Linked DNA regions of Homo sapiens. The protein of the gene in region 1 purifies or fractionates together with the protein of each later gene. This does not show direct contact. Each region holds a gene or a part of one and is shown in the gene's direction. Other genes may lie near its edges.

What was found.
Region 2: the proteins of EIF5A2 (region 1) and TRIM71 purify together in Homo sapiens (affinity purification with western blotting, with the first as the bait; one study listed by BioGRID). This does not show direct contact.
Region 3: the proteins of EIF5A2 (region 1) and PDCD2L purify together in Homo sapiens (affinity purification with mass spectrometry; one large-scale study listed by BioGRID and IntAct). This does not show direct contact.
Region 4: the proteins of EIF5A2 (region 1) and PIK3C2A purify together in Homo sapiens (affinity purification with mass spectrometry; one large-scale study listed by BioGRID and IntAct). This does not show direct contact.
Region 5: the proteins of EIF5A2 (region 1) and TFAP2B purify together in Homo sapiens (affinity purification with mass spectrometry; one large-scale study listed by BioGRID and IntAct). This does not show direct contact.

Annotation. Positions count from the first base shown.
Region 1 is NC_000003.12:170,891,618-170,895,139, reverse strand, and holds part of EIF5A2 (eukaryotic translation initiation factor 5A-2), read left to right. Parts: intron 1-716; coding exon 717-848; intron 849-1,720; coding exon 1,721-1,780; 3' UTR 1,781-3,522. UniProt on the Homo sapiens protein: Translation factor that promotes translation elongation and termination, particularly upon ribosome stalling at specific amino acid sequence contexts.
Region 2 is NC_000003.12:32,887,485-32,891,006, forward strand, and holds part of TRIM71 (E3 ubiquitin-protein ligase TRIM71), read left to right. Parts: intron 1-2,875; coding exon 2,876-3,522.
Region 3 is NC_000019.10:34,421,382-34,424,038, forward strand, and holds part of PDCD2L (programmed cell death protein 2-like), read left to right. Parts: intron 1-137; coding exon 138-286; intron 287-2,657. UniProt on the Homo sapiens protein: Over-expression suppresses AP1, CREB, NFAT, and NF-kB transcriptional activation, and delays cell cycle progression at S phase.
Region 4 is NC_000011.10:17,113,977-17,117,498, reverse strand, and holds part of PIK3C2A (phosphatidylinositol 4-phosphate 3-kinase C2 domain-containing subunit alpha), read left to right. Parts: coding exon 1-8; intron 9-3,033; coding exon 3,034-3,138; intron 3,139-3,522.
Region 5 is NC_000006.12:50,821,869-50,825,390, forward strand, and holds part of TFAP2B (transcription factor AP-2-beta), read left to right. Parts: intron 1-265; coding exon of another isoform or gene 266-292; intron 293-1,538; coding exon 1,539-1,997; intron 1,998-3,522.

The DNA of each region.
Region 1 (3,522 bases):
ACTAAGGTAGGTTTACATTTTCTGCTTAGAAAGTATTTATAAGACATATTATTAAGTCAAAACAGCTCACTGTAAAGTACTTATAATATCTCTTTTTTTTTTTTTTTTTTTTTTGAGACAGAGTCTCGCTCTGTCGCCCAGGCTGGAGTGCAGGGGCACGATCTTGGCTCACCGCAAGCTCCACCTCCTGGGTTCACGCCATTCTCCTGCCTCAGCCTCCCAAGTAGATGGGACTACAGGTGTCTGCCACCACACCTGGCTAATTTTTTGTATTTTTAGTAGAGATGGGGTTTCACCGTGTTAGCCAGGATGGTCTCAATCTCCTGACCTCATGATCCGCCCGCCTCGGCCTCCCAAAGTGCTGGGATTACAGGCGTGAGCCACCGCACTTGGCCCAATATCCCATTTTGATTAAAAAAAAAAACAAAACAGCAACTATATTTATTTTGTGAACATAAATGGAATACACTATAAAGAAACCTAAACTGTTTAACAAGGCAGAGATTGGGTATGGGAAGTACCGGGAGGAGTAAACTTATATTTCCATTCTGTACATATTTTATATTTTTTATATTTTTAGCATTTTAAATACCAAGAATATTAATATATTACTGTATACTTATATGAATTAATATCAATTGCAATTTAACTATGTAAGCATTACACAGAAGTGGATATAATCTAATCAGCACAAATGATATAATTTCTTCTAATAGCTGATATGCATTCAAGATGGTTACCTTTCCCTGCTGACAGAAACTGGTGAAGTTCGTGAGGATCTTAAACTGCCAGAAGGTGAACTAGGCAAAGAAATAGAGGGAAAATACAATGCAGGTGAAGATGTACAGGTAAAGACTTAGAGAAGGATTATTTTTGAAAACCATTTTATAAAAACTTTGACCTCAACTAGTTAACATAAAATACTACATATGGAATGTGGTTTAAAAATACTGCTAAAATGTTGAAAATGATCTCTCAGGCAGGTTTTCCATAAAACCCTTAGAGACTCATTATCAAAGAAAGTATCAAAGTTCATTTTTGCTACATCAGCATTACTCTCAAACCCAAATTTGTTTTGAAGCTCTGCACCTGACTTTTTTTTTTTTTTTGAGACGGAGTCTCCCTCTGTCACCCAGGCTGGAGTGCAGTGGCGTGATCTCGGCTCATTGCAACCTCCGCGTCCCAGGTTCAAGCGATTCTCCCCTCAGCCTCCTGAGTAGCTGGGATTGCAGGCGCGTGCCACCACATCTGGCTAATTTTTGTATTTTTAGTAAAGATTGGGTTTCAGCATGTTGGCCAAGCTGGTTTTGAACTCCTGACCTCAGGTGATCCCCCAACCTTGGCCTCCCAAAAGTGCTGGGATTACAGGCCTGAGCAAGGCGCCCAGCCCTGAGCTATTCTTACAGGTAAGAAATGATGCTAGTGGAATGTTAAAGAGTGAAGGAGATTTACTGTCTTCGTTACAACTTTCAGAAATGTAACGGGTAGTAAGTGTTCAAACATTTATAGTTATTTTTCCTGTTCCCTGGAAGTTGTCTTACAAACCACTCTGAGAAATTCTGCTTTAGAAAACTGTAAAGAAAGTAGCTTGTTTTGGAATACCCCTTTCAGAAGTCCATATGTACAAAATATCCACAAATATACAATATATGAGGAACTAATTATATCTTCTATATGTATTGTCTTCTGAATAACGTTTTGCCTGCTTTTTTCCTTCTAGGTGTCTGTCATGTGTGCAATGAGTGAAGAATATGCTGTAGCCATAAAACCCTGCAAATAAACGGAAACATCAGGCATGAACACTGTTTATGTCTGAATCAACTGCAGATCTAATTTGGTTCTAAGTTGTCACCAAAGCTATAGCCTTCATAAGCAACCTCATTTCTTTTTTTAATTGTTTTCAGATTGTGCTGGGTTAGTTTTGCAAGCAATTGATAATTTTTAAAAAATTATCAATATGTATAATTTTTTTTGAATTTTGTAGATATGTTTCCTATAATATTCCTGTGGTTTTCAGTATGTCAGTCCAAGAAACAAACAAGATAGCTTCAGCAGATGTGATTTGTCTGAGCAAATCATTCCTGTGTTTTAGTTAGATGATAAACCAGGGTTTTAAATCAAACAATGTAGCATAAAGTGGTATTGAAGTACCATATTTAAGTTGAACTGCTCTGCATTAATTACAGATTTAATATAAAATGAACTGATTATATATTGGAATTGTTGCACTTTCAGCCTGTGTAGGGCAAACACAAATCCTTAAACAAAAATCATGTTATCAAAAACTGTCAGTTATTTTGGTGGCCACATGCAACCATGTGATTACTTTGGTCATACTATTTACCAAATTGTTGGCAAACTTGATGTAACCTTATATGGTGGTTTTAGTCCCTTCTTATGGTTGGCAGAAGGGCACTGAACTGTTGGGTGAAAGTTAGTTAGCAAGTAAGATTATAAGGAAGACACAAAAGACAGTGGCAAAGAGGGTTGATTAAATCTATAAGTTTTTATGTGAGGACTTTGTAAGTCAGCATAAAAATGAAAAGTTGTTTCTCAGTTGTTTTTGCTTTTAACTTTGCCCCCAACGTTTAAAGGGAGTGATCTGCTTTACATGATACTATGCAATGCTTGTTTTCCAACTATGTTGAATAAATAGTAATATTTATCAGTAAATACTCCTTTCCAACTTCCTTTTTTTTTTTTTTTTTTTTGAGACTGAGTCTCACTCCATCAGCCAGGCTGGAGTGCAGTGGTGCAATCTCGGCTCACTGCAACCTCTGCCTCCCGAGTTCAAGCAATTCTCCTGCCTCAGCCTCCCAAGTAGCTGGGACTACAGGTGCATGCCACCACGCCCAGCTACTTTTTTGTGTATTTTAGTAGAGATGGGGTTTCACCATGTTGTCTAGGCTGGTCTTGAACTCCTGACCTCAGGTGATCCACCTGCCTCAGCCTCCCAAAGTGCTGGGATTACAGGCATGAGCCACCACACCCAGCCCCTTTCCAACCATTTCTAAGTAGATTTTTTGACATTAATGTATTTATTAAACAAAAACTGAGAATTCCTTAAATTGATTTGGAATTTTTGTTAATTTTATGTCCTTTTTTTCCTAAAGTGAATTAAAGTGAATCATGGAAGCAGCATTACTTTATATGAATATTATTATTTAAGTTAAGTTATTTTAAGTATATGCATTTTTTCTGATTGTTGTGTGACTTAATTCAGTTGCTGGTGTGAACTATAACTAGCAAATAATTCTATAAACTGAATTATTTTAAAAGGTATTTTAGGTGACACCACTGCATTTCTATTTCATCTTTTGAGTCATATGTATATTATTTCCAGAATTTTAGACATTATTACAGGGTTTGTGAGGACCTTTGACTCAGTGACAATCATCATATTGGAGCAAAACATAGAACAAAATCACTATCTCAGAAATACCTTAATTCTCTAAGACTGGCTCTTAGACCTCTCCCATCATGCCTTGACCTCTAAAAAGCCCTTTGTTCCTATCTTCTAAA
Region 2 (3,522 bases), about 140 Mb from region 1:
TTTTTTTTTTTTTTTTTTCTGTTCCTTCCCAGCAAATCCCTCTTACTTTGCCTGTCTCTGTCTGGGCATCTCTTTGTTACAAGTTTTGTTTTCCTGCATCTCTGGTTACTTTAAGATATATAAGTGCAAGGATTAAGATAACCCTGTTGTAAATATCCAGATGCCTCTCTTCATTCTTGGGCCTTATGTATTTCCAGTGGACTTGGCTACCTCATGGGGTTAGCTGCATATATATAGTTCATGGGTAAGAACCAAAGGTGGAGGTTTGGCCTAATGGGCAAATATTCTTTAATCTGTCCCCACGTGGGCCTCTCCATACACATGTATCCTGGTTCACTGAACAGATGAAAAAGCAGGAATGAGTCGAAATCATATAATCACCCCTCCCACCCTAAAGGGAAAGTCAGGTTGAAATCCAGCTCTTTCAACAGTGGACGCTTATTCTGAAATAGCCTTCTATGGCTTTCAGATCTGTAGAACAACTCAAGTCATGGTCCTCTGTGAAAACTGTTTGGATAAGTTCATTCGCTTCACAGGGGGAAATTGCTTAGAATTAGAGAACTTTTAAAGAATAGAGAAACTAATGTTTCATTGGTAAAACAAAATTCCATATTTCTAAATAGCATGGTTTGAGAACCTCAAGCAGGAATTATTTTGGCAGGTTAGAATCCATGTCCATATATATTATAGCATTTTAGATTTAAAGGGCTCTTTTGGAAATAATACAGACATGCCAAAAGCGTGCTATGTTAAAATTTGGGGTACAGGGCTTCTCAGGTTCCCAGTTGGGTTTTTAAAACCATTCTTAAAATACAGAAGTAAAGAGAAACTGGCCCAAGCACAGTGACTCACGCCTGTAATGCCAACACTTTGGGAGGCTGAGGTGGGAAGATTGCTTGAGTCCAGGATTTTGAGGCCACCCGTGGCAACATTAAGACCCCATCTCTACCAAAAAAAAAAAAAAAAAAAAAAAAAAAAAAAAAAAAAAAGGTGCCCTGTGGTGGTGGTCTCCTTTAATACACATTTCCCAAGCTAATCCTTTTGCGGTTTGTTGTTGTTGTTGTTGTTGTTTTGAGACGGAGTTTCGCTCTTATTGCCCAGGCTGGACTGCAGTGGCACGATCTCGGCTCACTGCAACCTCCGTCTCCTGGGTTCAAGCGATTCTCCTGCCTCAGCCTCCCAAGTAGCTGGGATTACAGCCACCTGCCACCACGCTCGGCTAGTTTTGTATTTTTAGTACAGAGAAGGTCTCACTATGTTGGCCAGACTGGTTTTGAACTCCTGACCTCAGGTGGTCCACCCATCTTGGCCTCCCAAAGCATGAGCCACTGTGCTGGGCCCCAAACTAATTCTTTAAGAATATGAATCTGTCATGTCACTCCCCTACTGAAAGCTGTGGTTGTGAAATGCTGAGCCTGTGCCCACAGCAGGACCTTTGCTGTTTCCTTTGCTGAGATAGCTCTCCCTATGGCCTTTTGCCTAGTCTCAACCTGTAGGTCTGAACTTGTGAAAGGCACTGTCCCTCAGTGCTCTTTGTCTGTATCAGGGCCCCTAGACACTGTCTTTCACATCCTTTTTCTACTTTTTAACACCTATCACTATCTGACATGATCCTTATTTCTTCGTTTGCTTTTGAATACTGCTTTTCTAAACTACAACTCTGTGTGAGCAAGGACCATATTTTATATTTTCTGTGGGTTACTGCAGTACCTCCAATGCCTGGCAAAGTGTAGGTGCTCAGTACACTCCTTTGTCAAATGGCTGTTTTTGGTTTTGGTGGTGGGATCTTGCTATTTTTTTAAGGTGGGATCTTGCTGTATTACCCAGGCTGGAGTGCAGTGGTTATTCACAGACACAGTCATGGCACACTACAGACTCAGCCTCCTAGGCTCAAGTGATTCTTCCACCTCAGCTTCCCGAGTAGCTGGGATTACAGGTGCACAGCACTGTGCCCAGCTCTAGATGGCTGTTTTTAACTTTTATTTTTTTTAATTTATAGCTTACAGAAAAGTTGCAGTAATAGTAACTCCATATATTCCTTCTCCAGATTTACTGATTATGTACGTTTTGTCCCAATTATTATTATTATTATTATTATTATTATTATTATTATTATTATTTTGAGACGGAGTCTCGCCCTGTTCCCTAGGTTGGAGTGCAATGGTGTGATCTCTACTCACTGCAACCTCCGCCTCTCGGGTTCAAGCGATTCTCCCCACATCAGCTTCCCAAATAGCTGGGATTACAGGCACCTGTTACCACACTTGGTTAATTTTTGTTATTTTTAGTAGAGACAGGGTTTTGCCATGTTGGCCAGACTGGTCTCAAACTCCTGACCTCAGGTGATCTGCCTGCTTCATCCTCCCAAAGTGCTGGGATTAGAGGCATGAGGCGTGCGTGTATGTGTGTGTGTGTGTATGTATGTATGTATGTATGTGTATATATGTTTGTGATCTGAGAGTGAGTTGGCATATTGGAAACACAATGCCTTTACCCCTAATCACATTACAATTACAGAAATCAGGAAATTTGATTTTGATACAGTACTAGCATCTACTCCTCAGTCCATAATCAAGGTTCAACAATTGTCCCAACAGTGCTTTTCATAGCTAGCCACTCCCTCCAGTCCAGAGTCACTAATTACATATAGTTGTCCTGTTTCTAGTAACTATCCTCTGTAACCCAGAACAGTTCTTCAGGTTTTTTGGTCCATTTTGATTTTGCTGCTTTTGAAGAAAGACAGATGTCTTTTGTAGACCATCCCACAATATGTGTTTGTCTGATGCTTCCTTGTGATTAGTTGTGGCTTATGTGGTATTTTCTGTGCTTGGCTCTAAGCCTCTGTGTCTTTCTCCACTCTTGCTTTTCCCTCCAGGTAGAAAAGATCCGCCAGGTGAAAGCCAAGTCTCTGTACCTGCAGGTGGAGAAGCTGCGGCAAAACCTCAACAAGCTTGAGAGCACCATCAGTGCCGTGCAGCAGGTCCTGGAGGAGGGTAGAGCGCTAGACATCCTACTGGCCCGAGACCGGATGCTGGCCCAGGTGCAGGAGCTGAAGACCGTGCGGAGCCTCCTGCAGCCCCAGGAAGACGACCGAGTCATGTTCACACCCCCCGATCAGGCACTGTACCTTGCCATCAAGTCTTTTGGCTTTGTTAGCAGCGGGGCCTTTGCCCCACTCACCAAGGCCACAGGCGATGGCCTCAAGCGTGCCCTCCAGGGTAAGGTGGCCTCCTTCACAGTCATTGGTTATGACCACGATGGTGAGCCCCGCCTCTCAGGAGGCGACCTGATGTCGGCTGTGGTCCTGGGCCCTGATGGCAACCTGTTTGGTGCAGAGGTGAGTGATCAGCAGAATGGGACATACGTGGTGAGTTACCGACCCCAGCTGGAGGGTGAGCACCTGGTATCTGTGACACTGTGCAACCAGCACATTGAGAACAGCCCTTTCAAGGTGGTGGTCAAGTCAGGCCGCAGCTACGTGGGCATTGGGCTCCCGGGCCTGAGCTTCGGCAGTGAGGGTGA
Region 3 (2,657 bases), on another chromosome or scaffold:
TTACAGCCATGGTGCTAGGTTTTTGGGCCTCTGGGAGATTTCTGCAAGAAACAAAGAAAGGTTGCAAAGCATGGCCTTAGATGCTAGAATGCGACTTGTGTGGCTCTGATTCGGGGTTCTTTGTTTCCTTGTCCTAGGTATTCCTGGAGTGGAGAGCCACTCTTTTTGACCTGCCCTACATCAGAAGTCACCGAGCTCCCAGCCTGCAGCCAGTGTGGAGGCCAAAGGATATTTGAGTTTCAGCTTATGCCAGCACTGGTCAGCATGCTCAAGAGTGCTAATTTAGGTGAGAAGCCCTTTATTAATTTGAGTTTGTGGATTTCTGGCATTATTTTTAAATAAATGAAAAACCTTTTGTTTACTTATAAAATATCATAAGCAAATTACAGAAAATTTGGGAATTAAAAAATTATTTTAAGAAATTTAGGCCAGGTGTGGTGGCTCATGCCTGTAATCCCAGCACTTTGGGAGGCCAAGGCGGGTGGATCACAAGGTCAGGAGATCGAGGCCATCCTGGCCAATGTGGTGAAACCCTGTCTCTACTATAATATAAAAAATTAGCTGGGCGTGGTGGCACGTGCCTGTAGTCCCAGCTCCTTGGGAGGTTGAGGCAGGGAATCGCTTGAACCCAGGAGGTAGAGGTTGCAGTGAGCCAAGATCGCACCACTCTACTCCAGCCTGGCGACAGAGTGAGGAGACTCTGTCTCAAAAAAAAAAAAAGAAATTTATAATCCAGCCAGTCTTTTTTTTTTTTTTTTAATATTTATTGATTGATTTATTTATTGAGATGGAGTCTCTCTCTGTCGCCCAGGCTGGAGTGCAGTGGCACGTTCTTGGCTCACTGCAACCTCCAGCTCCCGGGGTCTAGCAATTCCCCTCCCTCAGCCTCCCTAGTAGCTGGGATTACAGGTGCCCGCCACCACGCCCGGCTAGTTTTTGTATTTTTAGTAGTGATAGGGTTTCACTGTGTTGGCCAGGATGGAATTTTTGTATTTTTTGTAGAGACAAGGTTGCGTCATGTTGCCCAGGCTGGTCTCGAACTCCTAGACTCAAGCGATCCTCCCGCCTTGGCCTCCCAAAGTGATTACAAGCATGAACCATGCCTGGCCAGAAATTAAAACTATTATCAATGTTAATAACCATTATTCCAACAATCATTTTTGACATAAAGACAAATAGCAAGTCAGATGAATGTATGGATGGCTAGACGAAAATAATTTTCCTAAAATAGGAAAATTCACTAATATGGTAATTAAAAGTCTTAGAACAAATTTTTGTACAAATTAACAGAAGGAATGTTAAGTATAAGTGAAGCAGTTACTGGATTTTTTTTTTTTTCCTTCTTTTTTCTTGAGACGGAGTCTTGCTCTGTCGCCCAGGCTGGAGTGCAGTGGCATAATCTCAGCTCACTGCAAGCTCCGCCTCCCGGGTTCATGCCATTCTCCTGCCTCAGCCTCCCAAGGAGCTGGGACTACAGGCGCCCGCAACCAAGCCCAGCTAATTTTTTTTTGTATTTTTAGTAGAGACGGGGTTTCACTGTGTTAGCCAGGATGGTGTTGATCTCCTGACCTTGTGATCCGCCCACCTCAGCCTCCCAAAGTGCTGGGATTACAGGCGTGAGCTGCCACGCCTGGCCTGGACTTTTGGTAATAGGTTCTTTACCTAAGAGGCCCAAGTTTCTGAAAGGTGCTTCTGCTATTAACAGAAAATAACATTCTTTCTGTGTTTCAGTTTTAGATAGTATGCATCTGGCTCCTTACCATAGTAGATAAGGAAATTTATACCCTATTCCTACCTTGAAATATTTCAGTATCTTTTTTGTTTTTTGAGACGGAGTTTCACCCAGGTTGGAGTGCAATGGTGCTATCTCGGCTCACTGCAACCTCTGCCTCCCAGGTTCAAGTGATTCTCCTGCCTCAGCCTCCTGAGTAGCTGGGATTACAGGTGCCCACCACCACACCCAGCTAATTTTTTATATTTTTGGTAGAAACAGGTTTCACTGTTGTTGGCCAGGCTGGTCTCAAACTCCTGACCTCAAGCTCCCGACCTGCCTCGGCATCCCAAAGTGCTTGGATTATAGGCATGAGCCACCGTGCCTGGACCCAGTATCTTTTTTTTTTTTTTTTTTTTTGAGATGGAGCCTCACTCTGTCGCCCAGCCTGGAGTACAGTGGCACTATCTCGGCTCATTGCAACCTCTGCCTCCCAGGTTCAAGCGATTCTCCTGCCTCAGCCTCTTGAGTAGCTGGGATTACAGGCGCCCACCACCACGCCCTGCTAATGTTGTATTTTTAATAGAGACGGGGTTTCGCCATGTTGGCTGGTCTTGAACTCCTGACCTCAAGTGATCCGTCCACCTCGACCTCCCAAAGTGCTGGGATTTACAGGCATGAGCCACCGCGCCTGGCCAGTATCATAATTATCACAGCTATTTGGATAGCCTTAGTTCTATGTGTAAATGGATTCAGTGTTTATCACCACTCTTAGAGTGAGCTTTTTTATTCCTGTTTTATTTTGATTCTTTTTGCAGTAGCTGGATTTTCTCAAGTAATAGCTTTAAGGAGGGCTCAGAGGTATCTTGCTTCAGATTGTGCATGGTAATGTGGCTTCATATTTGAGGGGCAACCCATGTATAAAATTTTTAAATCCCACTTTCTC
Region 4 (3,522 bases), on another chromosome or scaffold:
CCAGACAGGTATGTACCCATAAAAGGTAATATAAATGTGTTAATGTTAAAGGAAGGATCTTTATGGTGCTGACTAATTAAGTTGCTATTCTTTATTGGTAGACTCCCAGTAGAACTCTAACTATACCCATGCTATTTGGGGCAGATAAATTCAAAGATTGTTTAAAATATATAGGAACATATTTCACAACCTATTAAAATCAGTGATTTTCCCATGCTTATTTATTTCCATGCTTATTTATTCCTTTCTGATGAAAATTGTTTTCTTGAATTCCTTTACCTCCACTATCAAAGTCCACAGTATTTTCATCACACCAAAAAGAAAGCATGTCCCCATTTTCCCCTCCCAGCCACTAAACTGTTTTCTGTCAATATGGATACGTCTATACTTCTATATGGATATTCTGGACACTTCATGGACTTTTCTGTCTAGTTTCTTTCACTTAGCATAAAGTTTTCAGAGTTCATCTGTGTTCTAGCATGTGTACTACATGCCATTTTTGGTTGAATAATATTCCATTGTGTGGATATACCACATTTGGTTTAAACATTCATCAGTTGGTGGACATTTGGGTTGTTTCCACTTTTTGACTATTAATAATAATACTGCTGGCCAGGCGTGGTGGCTCATGCCTGTAATCCCAGCACTTTGGGAGGCCCAGGCGGGCAGATCACGAGGTCAGGAGATCGAGACCATCCTGGTTAACATGGTGAAACCCCGTCTCTACTAAAAATACAAAAAATTAGCCAGGCATGGTGGCGGGCGCCTGCAGTCCCAGCTGCTCGGGAGGCTGAGGCAGGAGAATGGCGTGAACCCGGGAGGCGGAGCTTGCAGTGAACCGAGATCGAGCCACTATACTCCAGCCTGGGCGACAGAGCAAGACTCTGTCTCAAAAAAAAAAAAAGAATACTGCTATGAATATTCATGTATAAATTTGTGTTTAAACAACTGTTTCCACTTAGGAATGGCAGAGCTAGGTCATATGGTAGTTCTGTGCTTAACTTTTTGGGGAATCATAGAATTATTGTCTGTAGCAGCTATATCACTTTACATTCCCACCAGCAATATAGAAGGGTTCCAGTTTCACCACATCCTCACCAACATTGTTTTTTTTCCTGTTTTTTGATTATGGCCATTCTAGTGGGTGTGAAGCAGTATCTCGTTGTGGTTTTGAGTTGAATTTCCCTAGTGACTAATGATATTGAGCACATTCTCATATGTTTATTGGCCATTTGTATTCTTTGGAGAAATATCTATTCAAAGTCCTTTGTCCATTTTAAATTGGAATGTCTTTTTTGTTGTTGAGTTGTAAGAGTTATTTATATATTTTGGATACTAGACCTTTATCACATACACTATTTGCAAATATTTTTTTCATTCTGCAGTTGTCTTTTTAATTCCTTAATAGTGTCCTTTAATATATTAATACAAAAATGTTTAAGTTTGATGAAGTCCAGTTTATCTATTTTTTTCTTTTGTGGCTCATGCTTTTAGTGTCATATCTAAGAATCCATCATTAAATCTAATGCCATAAAGATGTACACCTGTGTTTTCTTCTAAGCTTTTCTAGTTTTAGCTCTTATGTTTAGGTCTTTGATCCGTTGTGGTATGAAGTAGAGGCCCAACTTTATTCTTTTGAATGAGGTTATCCAGTTGTCTTAGCACCATTTGTTAAAGAGACCCCCTCCTTCCTCTTGAATGGTTTTGGCGTACTTGTCAAAAATCAGTTGACCCTGTGCTTGCTTCGGTAACACATATACTAAAATTGGAATGATACAGAGAAGATTAGCATGCCCCCTACACTACGATGACATGCAAATTCGTGAAGTGTTCTGTTAAAAATTTTTAAATAAAAAAGTTGACCACATATATGGGTTTTTTTCTAGACTCTCAATTCTATATCATATATGTCTATCCATATGCTATATTTGTTTTTTTTTTTTTTTTCCTTTTTTTCCTTGAGATGAGGTCTCTCTGTTGCCCAGGCTGGAGTGCAGTGGTGTGATCACAATTCACCACAGCCTCAGCCTCCTGGGCTCAAGTGATCTTCTCGCTTCAGCCTCCCAAGTAGCTGGGACCACAGGTGTTTGCCACCATGCCTGTCTTTTTTTTTTTTTTTTTTTTTTCTTGTAGGGACAGGGTTTTGCCATGTTTCCCAGGCTGGTCTTGAACTCCTGGGCTCAAGCAGTCCTCCCATTTTGGCCTCCCAAAGTCCTAGGATTATAGATATGAGCCATCCACCCAGCCTATACTTTTTTTAATTACCATAGTTTTATAGTAAGTTTTGAAATTGGACAATGTAAGTCCTCCTACTTTGTTCTTTTTCATTATTATTTTTGGCTATTCAGGGGACACTTGCAATTTCATATGAATTTTAGGAACCGTGTATCCATTGCTGCAAAAAGGCAGTTGGAATTTTGATAAGAATTATAGATTAATTTGGGGAAATATTACATACAATCTTAATTATAAACTATTACCTCTATATACATTGTTTACCTGTTTTCTCTTTACTAAACAATACTGCAATGAACTTTGGTTGGTGTGTACATTTTTATTTCTTTGCTAGTATTTCTTTCAGAAAATTCCTACAGGTGAAATAGCTGAGTCAAGAGCGACATGTATTTTTAGTTATAATAGTTGTTACATTGCTCTACAAAAGAAGCTACACCTGTGTACACCTCTCTCCCTACCAATAAGTTATGAAATCGTTTCCTAACACAGGATGTTGTTTTAAATTTTCATCTGATAGGTGAAAAACTGCATTCATTTTTGTTTGGCTTCTATTTCTTTGACTATTAGTGAGCTTTAACATTTTCGTATACATTGGTTGGCCAAATGTACCTTTGCCCACTATATTTATAGCCTTTGGCCATTCTAGTTTTATAGTAAAAATTAACTCTCTTTAGTAACAACCTTTTTTTCACCGTTTGACAACTGGGCATTTTATAAATTGTATCCACAGCATAACTTGTCTGAAAAATAGATCTTCATTTTCATTATGTACTTACAGTATCACATCTCTTTCTATAGGTTGTTCTCCAAAGAAGTATGGAACGAGTACAGTCCTTTTTTCAGAAAAATAAATGCCGTCTCCCTCTCAAGCCAAGTCTAGTGGCAAAAGAATTAAATATTAAGGTGACACATAAAATACTTATAAGTTCATATTACATTTGAAAATAATAGGAAGAAGGCAAATGGGCAGGTATGCTTAAGGCAAATGAAGGTAAAACCTGCACAGGTTGGTTATAAGCATGGATGGTTGTGATTAGGATCCATATTTATCTTAGCATATTTTTTTACCTAACCACCATTCCTGGGAAAAAAAAAGTATAAAATTATTTACTGCCTTGGGCTTCATTTTTTTAAATTGGTCTCACCTTTTTATTTATTTATTTATTTATTTATTTATTTATTTTTTGAGACAAAGTCTCACTCTTGCCCAAGCTGGAGTGCAGTGGTGCGATCTTGGCTCACTGCAACCTCCACCTCCCAAGTTCAAGCGATTCTCCTGCCTCATCC
Region 5 (3,522 bases), on another chromosome or scaffold:
CATCTGGAGCCCCGAAGAACGGCAGAAGAAAAGAGGCCAAAAAGACAGCAAAGAGACAGATGAATAGTTCTGTCTGTGTGTGACAGGCATCGCCAATCTTGTTGGGGTGGGGGGCGGGTGTAATTTTTTTTTTTTTTTTTTGATGGCTTGTCCTGGAAACACATCAAGCTCAGCTCCTGTGTCCAGCTCGCTTCTCTGCTGGACTCCTTGATTTTTTTTTTAATCATTGTTTGATTTTGAGCAGTAACCAGGCTTTTTTTTCCAGATGTTAGTCCACACCTATTCATCCATGGTGAGTTTGGATTCACGTGTTACCAGAATTGCATGCTCCCTCCTCTCACTGTCTCTCTGTCTCTGCGTCTCTGTGTGTGTGTGTGTCTCACACTCTCTGTCTCTCTCTGTCTTCCTTTGAGCGCCTTTGGCTTGGTAATTTAGCACCATAATTGGACGAGGCTGCAGCTGCTTCTCTCTGCATTGTGTGTTCTCCGTCTGAGCTCCATGAGTCAGCTGGGAGGGGAGAGGCCGAAAAGAAAAACTTTTTATTTGCCATTGCTGTTTGGAAATTTAGGTGACTATTTCTGCAAAAAGAACCATGGGGAGTTTACCATGATGTTTCCAGAGAAGAGAGGGAGAAACAAAGTCCACCTCCCTCATATACACACCTCCCCCTTCTTCTTTCACTTAGTTCACACTCCAGATAGGACCAGGAATAAGTTGTCTGGGCTTTTATTTCCCCCCACCCCAACTTTAGTTCCTTCATTTTCACATCCTGAGTATAACAGCATTAGATATAGAAAAACAGTCTTAGAAATAACTCCTATGAACCACAACTCAACTTAATTCATCATTGGCTTAGGATATGATTTCGAATGAGATCCATTTCAATGAAACACTATTTAAGTTATTTAATTTCTCCTGGAGAGGGAGGAGTGACTGGGAACTCAGACCAGGTGGATTCCTTGGAGCTCTTGGAATGATCAGGTTGTGTGGAAAGCTCCTCCTAATCAGCCAGCTGCATTTCCAGCGAAGGCAGAAGTTGGTTTTTAATCAGGGGGAGCAGCACAGCAAATACTATGAAGTTTTATTTGTTGTGATTTGTACCTCTGGAAGAGTTAGAAAAAAGTAGTTAAAAACACCCAGAGGAGCAAACACCATATGTAAGACTCCTACAATTTTAATTAAGGCATTTAGAATCTCCCTCCATACACACTGTTCCTGTACCCCTGCCTTTTGCCTGCTTTGCACTCCCCAAAAAGCGGCTAAAATGTTATAGTTAAGTGGGTGATTCCTTTCCCATTTTCTCCCCAAGCCTGGGGTTTGAAATTGCTGAAATCATGTGGCCCTCTGAGTCAACTTGGGGGTCTAAGTTTCAGATCCTTGCTTCCCTTGTCCCGGGAAGAGCGTACAAAAGCCGGGCTTCTCCATTTGTCACTTGTATTTTTTTTCTTCCTCTCTGTACTCTCTGTCTCTCTCTGCCTCTATCTCTCTTTCTCTGTCTCCTTCTCTGGCTCTCTTCCCCTTCCTCTCTCCGCTCCCAGGACCGGCACGATGGTGTCCCGAGCCACAGCTCGCGGCTCTCCCAGCTGGGCTCGGTGTCCCAAGGACCCTACTCGAGCGCCCCGCCGCTGTCCCACACCCCGTCGTCGGACTTCCAGCCGCCCTACTTCCCACCCCCCTACCAGCCGCTCCCCTACCACCAGAGCCAGGACCCCTACTCCCACGTCAACGACCCCTACTCCCTGAACCCACTGCACCAGCCCCAGCAACATCCCTGGGGGCAACGGCAGCGGCAAGAAGTGGGTTCGGAAGCCGGCTCTCTCCTGCCCCAGCCTCGGGCCGCCTTGCCCCAGCTCTCGGGCCTTGACCCCCGGAGGGACTACCACTCGGTCCGCCGGCCGGACGTGCTGCTGCATTCGGCGCACCACGGCCTGGACGCGGGCATGGGTGACAGCCTCTCGCTGCACGGCCTCGGCCATCCCGGAATGGAAGACGTCCAGGTAACCACAAACAAACAAACAAACAAACAAAAAAGACCACGAATAAGGAATGCTTCTGGAGGGGGGGAGGTCAGGAGAGGGCAGCTCTGTCTCTTTTTGGGGAGTTTGTTCCCATGTTTAGAACAGGACTAGACAGTCATATAGAACTGTTTATGTGTGTCTGTATGTATGGCTCTATAGTGGCGATTTCCAGAGGTCTAATTATGATCATCCAAACCACGAGAAATTAAATCTTGAAGAAGAAAAATATGTATTTGCTTTGATACCTTAAGATTATTAGAATAAAGGCGAATGCTTTTGTCCTGCCTCAGCTACCATCTCCTGCATATTCTCTAGTGCTTTGTGGAAGCCAGCTTGGTACCCCTTCTTTACCAACACACACACCCCATAGTGGGGCTGTCCTGCTGACTTGGCAGGTGAAGACCTGGCTGCCTAGAGGCTAGAGCTTCAGAATGAAGTTCCAGGGGCCTCTGTATGCTCCAGAGGTTGCTGCTGAATTTGCAAAGATTTTGCTAAGCATGACAATGAGCTCTGATCATCTAAGCCAGGTCTTGCTTTGAATGTCTCATAAGCCACAGAGCTTTTTTCCAAGAGATAGTTGCAGTCCTCATCTGAGAAATAGAATATATGTGAAGGAGAAACTCAGAACGCCATAATTCAGGAGTCCATGATGGTAGATACCATTTTGGAAATTCTTTTCACTTTTTGGTTCATTAAGTGACTGTAGTGTAATATTCTCCACCTCCCTCTCCTGGCCTCCGCCTATATTAACACTCTTCTCTCCCCACTGCCATCATCCCAGTTGAGAGGCATCACGTGTTTATTTCTTAAAACAAAAGGCTCAAAACACTCCCCCTACCCACCCACTATCCCATCTGCAGTCTACACAATGGAGCCTGATTTGGTTGAGAATACTTGGTTAAACTAAACAAAGAAACATCAAAGAAATGATTCCTAAAAACTGTTTGGGTGATTCTGAGCAGGTCTGCTTTTTCACCCTAAGTTAAATAGTTGGCAGAAAAGATAAATATAGTTTACAGGTATGTAATTGACACTTCAGTTTCATTGGCATAGTTGTATTTATTATGCATCCTTTGACATACCTCTGAAGCAAAGGAAAATAAAATGGGAAAGAGAAGAGGGTGCAAGAGTCATTCTTCTGTACCTTGCTGAAAAAAAATAGTTTTAAACAGTTAAAATGTGGTGACAGCATCAAATGCTGTCTGTGTGTGGTCTATGATTGTTTATTGTTTTAAAAGAAATTCAGTTATTTATTTTTTTAAAAAAGACGGAATTACCTGATTTGTGCCTGGATTTACTGATAGTAATAAGAGTGATGATGGTTTTGTTGATTTAACTGAGCTTGACTGTTCCTGGCTAGAGATATTGCTCATTTCTGAATATCATATGAAAAAGGAAGTATTTAATAGTTTTTTTTTTAATGCATTGGGGTAATATGTGTCTCGAGGGGAAAAGTTTTTAAATTAACCTTTCTGAGTATGGTTCAAAGTGCTGGATAATGAAA